Linked DNA regions of Homo sapiens. The protein of the gene in region 1 purifies or fractionates together with the protein of each later gene. This does not show direct contact. Each region holds a gene or a part of one and is shown in the gene's direction. Other genes may lie near its edges.

Region 1 (3,935 bases):
AGCCTTTGACAAGTTACTTAACCACTCTGTGCTGATTTCCTATGTGTAGTAAAATAAGAGTACCTACCTTATGTTGTAATGATCAAGTCCTCAATACATTATTCTTAATCACTTTTTAATTGCAAGAATTTGGTCATTAAACATCCCTTTGACTGGATTGCGAGCACCTTGACAGCAGGGACTAACAGTGGAACTTTCTGGAGACTTAAGGAATGTCTGTTGAATCCTGATGCAAGCTTTCTCACCTTCCTGTGTTCTCTCATTGCTTCCTCATCCTGTCCAGCCGTCCGTCCACCCGTCGCAAGCCTAACCCCAGTCAATAACCACTGTTTACAACACTTTCTTTGTACCCTTCTTATAGTGCTTATTACATTGTTTTGAATACTAAATGAATATATAGTGCGTCGTTGTGTTTAACATTTAGGACATAACCACTCATAATGTTACAGTTAAAAAAATAGTTTTGTGCATTCCTCTAGGGCCGAACTGTGCCGTACTTCTGGTTTCACTGTACAGTGTCTACAAAGCACAGTGTCAAAGACAGAGCTCGGGATGAGAACTGGGCTAAGGCGCGCCCCGAACTCCCCAAACCCTATTATTCAGGGCCCGGAGAGGTGCGGGCTCCGAAGGTGTGGAGAGCGAAACACGCAGAGCAGTGATTCCACTCATCAGTCACACAGTAAGACGGGACAGCCCCATCTCGCAGTTTTTCATTATTCAACACAGAGCCCAACGCGCACGCAACAGATCCGCGCGCAGGGCTGTTTGGAGGCGCTTGGGGCGCACAATCTGGGGCAGGCGGAACCTTAGTCCTCAGCCTCGCGTTTCCCGCGACTCCGCTCTCACCGCTACACTACCACACAAACGGCCTCCTTCCCCCACCCCCGGGGGCCCATCCCGGTGGCGGGCTCCGGAGCTCGGGACTGCTAATTTCAGCGAAACGATTAAAAGACGCCCCTACAGCTGACGGCACTTTCTCTCCTCCGGCAGGGAAGGACGTCCAGCGTAGCGTCGCCCGCGCTTCCCCGCCGGCGCAGAGCAGGCCTCACAGAATCGCACGCCGCTGGCACGCACGCCGCCCCGCCCCCACGGCCCAGCGCCAGCCGCGCCCCGCGCTCGCACGCATCCCGGCCTCACTGCCCCTCGACTCCTGTTCCGTTGGAGGGGCCTGAGGCGAGCCTGAGCGCGCTGTTGGCCGGAGGGAAGCCGGAGGAGACCGGGTCGACTGGGCAGAGCGGCAGAGGGTCGAGGAGCCTGCTCTGCACGCCCAGGGAGTAGAAGTGGGCAGGGAGCAGGGTCACGTGAGGGAGCGCGCCGCGACTGAGCTTGGGTCCGACTGGAGCTCAGGCTCGCGACCCAGACTGGTGGGCCAGGCCTCCAAGCCGGCCTTACACCCAATCCAAGGAGGACAGACCGGACACAGAGGGACGGAGCGAGCAAGGAGACATGGCTTCATCATTCCTGCCCGCGGGGGCCATCACCGGCGACAGCGGTGGAGAGCTGAGCTCAGGGGACGACTCCGGGGAGGTGGAGTTCCCCCATAGCCCTGAGATCGAGGAGACCAGTTGCCTGGCCGAGCTGTTTGAGAAGGCTGCCGCGCACCTGCAAGGCCTGATTCAGGTGGCCAGCAGGGAGCAGCTCTTGTACCTGTATGCCAGGTACAAACAGGTAAAGTAGCAGGGAGAGGGTGGATGGGGGAGAAAGACACGGAGCCTTCTTCCTCAACAACTGATAGCAAGCATGTATGGTTAATAGCTAGGTGTAATGAAGCTTGTGTATGTGTATTTTGTTTTGTTTTTTTTTTTTTGACCATCTGCTGGGGATGAGCATCATCCTGAACGTGGAAAAGATGTTTGCTTTCTTAGGAGTGATGTTTATTTAGCTGGACACTGGACATTGTTTTTGTGTTTTTTTCTCTGACTTATTCAGTGATCTTGCATTTTACCAGCCCAAGAACCTTTACAAAATGAGGATAAAATAAGATATATCATTCATTTACTCTTTCCCAGAGGGCCACATGGAAGTAAATACGGTAAAGTTAATAAAACTATATAGAGATCCAAAAAGATAATAGGATTGTAATAATGTGATGCAGGGCTGGGCGTGGTTGCTCACGGCTGTAATCCCAGCACTTTGGGAGGCCGAGGCGGGAGGATCACCTGAGGTCGGGAGTTGGAGACCAGCCTGACCAACATGGAGAAACCCCGTCTCTACTAAGTTAGCCGAGCGTGGTGGCGCATGCCTGTAATCCCAGCTACTCGGGAGGCTGAGGAGGCGGAGGTTGCGGTGAGCGAAGATTGTGCGCCATTGCACTCCAGCCTGGGCAACAAGAGCGAAGAAACTCCACCTCAAATAATAATAATAATAATAATGTGATGCAATGCAAAATGCAGTATTACAACTTTTATTGTGATTTTTATAAAATCCTAAATATCTTTGATTTATGTTTTCGTTGAGTATGTCTTCCTTTCTGTTTGATACAATCTAAAAATTTTAGAGCTATGAACACCAGAGGAAATAATGCCCTTCTTTTACAGTAAAGGAAACTGAAGGCCATAGAGAGTAGGCACCTTTCCTAGGGTCATACAAATACATCAGTCAGAACTGGATTGTAGCTCCTGACTCAGTCTAAGGCTGTGAACTTTACCTGGAAATAGGGAGGTGTATAGACACGTTTAATTTATAATTCAGGGTGACATTGGTTGGTACCAGAAGGAAAATAATTGCTTTATCATAAGCAACATATATTTGTTCAGCAGCTTTTATGTGCAAGACACTTGGGTATAATGCCTACAGAGAATGCAGAGAAGCAAAAACATCATGACACTTTGCAGAGAAGCAAAAACATCATGACACTCACTTTTTTTTTTTTTTTTTTTTTTTACAGAGGGTCTGGGTTTCACCACATTTCCCAGGCTGGTCTTGAACTCCTGAGCTCAGACGATCCACCTGCCCAAAGTGCTGGGATTACAGGCATGAGCCACTGCACCTGGCTGACACTTTTTTTTTTTTTTTTTTGAGATGGAGTTTTGCTCCTGTTGCCCAGGCTGGAGTGCAGTGGCTGGATCTTAGCTCACTGCAACCTCTACCTCCCCGGTTCAAGCGATTGTCCTGTCCCAGCCTCCCGAGTAGCTGGGATTACAGGTGCCTGCCGCCATGCCCAACTAATTTCTTGTATTTTTAGAAGAGACGGGGTTTCATCATGTTCGCCAGGCTGGTCTTGAACTCCTGACCTTAGGTGATCTGCCTGCCTTGGCCTCCCAAAGTGCTGGGATTACAGGTGTGAGCCACCACGCCCCGCCAACATTTGCTTTAAGAGACTTAAAGTACTTGAGGAGTCTAGGTTTGAACATACCTGAAAAATTGCTGACAAGAGTTAAATAACAGTTCAGGAAAATTACAGCTCTTTGAAACACTAGAGGAAAGGAAATTCTGGATAATAGCCTATTTTGTTTTATTAAAAATGTGTAAACTTTTTTTCTTTTTGCCTCTTGACATAGTTACGTATTTTCCCCTGTATTTGTTAAAGGAAAAATAAGTTGGGGGAGAGGTCCTGCTGTGTTCTTTTTTTTTTTTTTTTAACTAAAAAAGTTTTTTTAGAGACAGGATCTTGTTTCGTTGCTCAGGCTGGAGGGCAGTTACACACTCATAGCTCACTGCAGCCTTGAAGCTTCTGGCTTCAAGCGATCCTCCTGCTTACGCCTCCTGAAGTACTGTTATTACAGACATGATCCCGCATGCCCAGCCCCACTGTGTTCTTAAACTGGATGTACTGAGTAAAAATGAACCTTGTTTTGAAGGTTGATGGTCATTATTATGAATATCAGTTAATGTGACCTGAGAGAGAAAGCTGTAGGAACAAATGGTATAAATTATAGTGTCGAATGAAAATTACCTCCAAATTGGCCTTGGAATTAGCTTTCTTGGAAAAGTTG
Region 2 (3,500 bases), on another chromosome or scaffold:
AGTGCCTTCAGTTCCCATCCCTCTTCTCTGACCCCCAACTCCTGAGCCCCTTGCCTGTCACCCTCCCCCACCCCAGCTGCTGCATGTGCCAACCCCCCACCCAGGAGAAAACGAGGCTCTTGGAAGGGAATAAATGGAGGCTCTGTGCAGGCTTGCAGCTGAAATGGCCCTGTGCGCGGCCACAGATGGGCCTCCTCTCCCCCTCCACATTTCTGCATCAACAAAGCGTGACCTTGTTTGGATGACAGTCGCCCCATGTTTTCCCCATGACAATGCTTGCCTTGCCTTTGCCTCCCAGCGGGCTGTCTCAGGACATCTCTGTTCCCTGAAATTGGGAAAGGGTGGTGGGGTGGAAGACATCTCATTCTTCAAAAGTCTGGTGAGGCCTTTTCAGTTAAGATCCACAAGAAGTCTGAGATGGGAATTGGGAGACCCAGAGGGAGAAGCAGCATGGGGCGCTGAAAGAGCCCTGGCGCTCATCTCAGAAGCCTCAGCTTCTGGACTTGGCTCCAATCATCTCTGCAGTCCCCGCCTTCCCTTGGCCAGGTGCTGGGACACAGAAATGAACCAAACTCTGCCCTCAAGAGGCTTTCTGACCTTTGGGAAGTCCTGTTTTTTTCTGACCAGTCTGCTGGTGCTAAGCAGGAATCAGTTAGACTGAAATTATAGTTCAGCCCCTGCCTCTCTAACCTTGGACAAGTTGGTTGCTTAACCTCTCTAGGCTTGAGTCTGCTTTTCTATCAAAGTGAGCAAATAATATCTACCTCCTTCCTTCTTCCCTGGGACTCCCTGAGGATGAAATGAGATGAGGAACATCTTATAAATGGTGAGGCGATGTGAACAGTTGTTCTTAGTTGATGCCAGGCCTCATGGACTCTCTCAGCCTCCAGCACTGTGATGTACCCACCAGGTCAGCAGCAGGTGGCATGGGCAGGAGCATTCAAACCATCATCTGGCCAGAGGAAACCCCTAGATGCACAGGGTCTCCAGAGTGCCTCACAGTGGCTCCCCAACATTTTTCCAGATGGAAAGACTGAAGCTTAAGATTGAGTCAAGGCCAGGCATGGTGGCCCACACCTATAATCCCAGCACTTTGGGAGGCTGAGGCAGAAGGATTGCTTGAGCCCAGGAGTTCAAGACCAGCCTGGGCAATAGAGTGAGACCTCACTATGTTATAAAATATTTTTAAATTATTATTAGTTTTGAGATAGGGTCTCACTGTGTCGCCCAGGCTGCAGTACAGTGGCATGACCTTGGCTAACTGCAGCCTCAACCTCCCAGGTTCAGGTGATCCTCCCACCTCAGCCTCCCAAGTAGCTGGGACTACAGGCGCACACCACCATGCCCACCTAATTTTTGTAGTTTTTGTAGACACAAGGTGTTGCCATGTTGCCCAGGCTGCTCTTGAACTCCTGGACTTAAGCAATCCTCCCTCGCCTCTCAGCCTCCCAAAGTGCTAGAGTTACAGGTGTGAGCCACTGTGTCTGGCCCCCAAAGTATTTTAATAACAAAGAAAAAAGAAGATTGAGTCACACATCTAAGGTCTCAACATAGGGAGAGGTGGAGCCTGGGCTTCACATCGGGGCCGGCAGCTCCAAAGGCTGTGTTCTGCACCTGTGTGGTAAGCTGCCTCTCTAGAAGGCAGAGGAGTAAAAACAAGAGTCGGCAAATTTGGGTACTTGATTTTTTTTTTTTCTTTTTAAATAATTAGAGACAGAGCCAGGCATGATGACTCACAACTCTAATCCCAGCACTTTGGGAGGATTGCTTGAGCCCAGGAGGTCAAGACCAGCCTGGACGACATAGGGAGACCCTGTCTCTACAAAAAATAAAAATAAAATTAGGCAGGTGTGGTGACACGTGCCTGTGGTCCCAGCTACCTGGGGGCTGATGTGGGAGGTTTGCTTGAACCCAGGAGGTTAAGGTTGTATCAAGCTGAGATCACGCTACTGCACTCCAGCCTGGGTGACAGAGTGAGACCTTGTCTCAAAAAATAAATAAATAGGCCAGGCACGGTGGCTCACGCCTGTAATCCCAACACTTCGGGAGGCTGAGGCAGGTGGATCACGAGGTCAGGAGTTCAAGACCAGCCTGGCCACAATGGTGAAACCCTGTCTCTATTAAAAAAAAATACAAAAATTAGCCAGGTGTGGTAGCACGTGCCTGTAATCTCAGCTACTCTGGAAGCTGAGGCAGAGGATTGCCTAAACCCAGGAGGCGAAGGTTGCAGTGAGCCAAGATCGCACTACTGCACTCCAGCCTGGGCGACAGAGCGAGACTCTGTCTCAATAAATAAATTTTTTTAAAAAGTAAAATAAAATAATAAAAATAGGCCAGGCACAGTGACTCATGCTTCTGATTTCAGCACTTTGGGAGGCCAAGGCAGGGAGATTACTTGAGCTCAAGAGTTCGAGACCAGTCTGAGCAACATGGCGAAATCCCATCTCTACAAAAAGTACAAAATTAGCTGAGTGTGATGCCATGCACCTGTAGTCCCAGCTGCTTGGGGGTCTGATGTGGGAGGATTGCTTAAGCCTAGGAGGTCAAGCCTGCAGTGAGCTGTGATTGTGCCACTGAACTCCATGCTGGGTGACAAAGCAAGACCTTGTCTCAAAAATAAATAGATAATAATTTCCCGGGTGCCTAATGATAATAATAATTACATAGAGACAGGGTCTTGCTATGTCACCAAGGCTCTATTTCACTGAGGCTCATCTCAAACTCCTGGCCTCAAGCAGTCATCTCGCCTTGGCCTCCCACAGTGCTAGGATTCCAGGTGTGAGCCACCACACCTAGCCGGTACTTGATTATTAGTAAAAATTATATCCTACCTTGCCACATTAGAAGTCATATTTAGGAATTGGTCACTGGGTCTGGGCAGAGTGGCTTGTGCCTGTAATCCCAGTGCTTTGGGAGGCTGAAGTGGGAGGATTGCTTTAGGCCAGGAGTTTGAGATCAGCCTGGGTAACATAACAAGACTCCATCTCTACAAAAAATTTAAAGATTAACCTGATATGGGCCAGGCGCGGTGGCTCATGACTGTAATTCCAGCACTTTGAGAGGCCAAGGTGGGCGGATCACCTGAGGTCAAGAGTTTGAGACTAGCCTGGCCAACATGGTGAAACCCTCTGTCTAAAAATACAAAACTTAGCCAGATGTGGTGGCTCATGTCTGTAGTCCCAGCTACTCGGGAGGCTGAGGCACGAGAATCACTTGAACCTGGGAGGCGGAGGTTGCTGTGAGCTGAGATCACACCACTGCACTGCAGCCTGGGCAACAGAGTGAGACTAAACAGAGTAAAATAAAATTAAATATAAACATAAATATTAATATAAAAAGTAGCCTGATATGGTGGCATGCACCTGTAGTCCTAGCTACTTGGGAGGTTGAACAGGAAGGTCTCTTGAACCCAGGAGTTCAAGGTTACAGCGAGCTATGATTGCACTGCTGCATTCCAGCATAGGCGACAGAGTAAGAACCTGTCTCTAAGAAAGAAAGGG

The links.
Region 2: the proteins of ACBD6 (region 1) and URM1 purify together in Homo sapiens (affinity purification with mass spectrometry; one large-scale study listed by BioGRID and IntAct). This does not show direct contact.

Annotation. Positions count from the first base shown.
Region 1 is NC_000001.11:180,499,778-180,503,712, reverse strand, and holds the start of ACBD6 (acyl-CoA-binding domain-containing protein 6), read left to right. Parts: upstream 1-1,135; 5' UTR 1,136-1,446; coding exon 1,447-1,668; intron 1,669-3,935. UniProt on the Homo sapiens protein: Binds long-chain acyl-coenzyme A molecules with a strong preference for unsaturated C18:1-CoA, lower affinity for unsaturated C20:4-CoA, and very weak affinity for saturated C16:0-CoA. Does not bind fatty acids. Plays a role in protein N-myristoylation.
Region 2 is NC_000009.12:128,374,374-128,377,873, forward strand, and holds part of URM1 (ubiquitin-related modifier 1), read left to right. Parts: intron 1-3,500. UniProt on the Homo sapiens protein: Acts as a sulfur carrier required for 2-thiolation of mcm(5)S(2)U at tRNA wobble positions of cytosolic tRNA(Lys), tRNA(Glu) and tRNA(Gln). Serves as sulfur donor in tRNA 2-thiolation reaction by being thiocarboxylated (-COSH) at its C-terminus by MOCS3.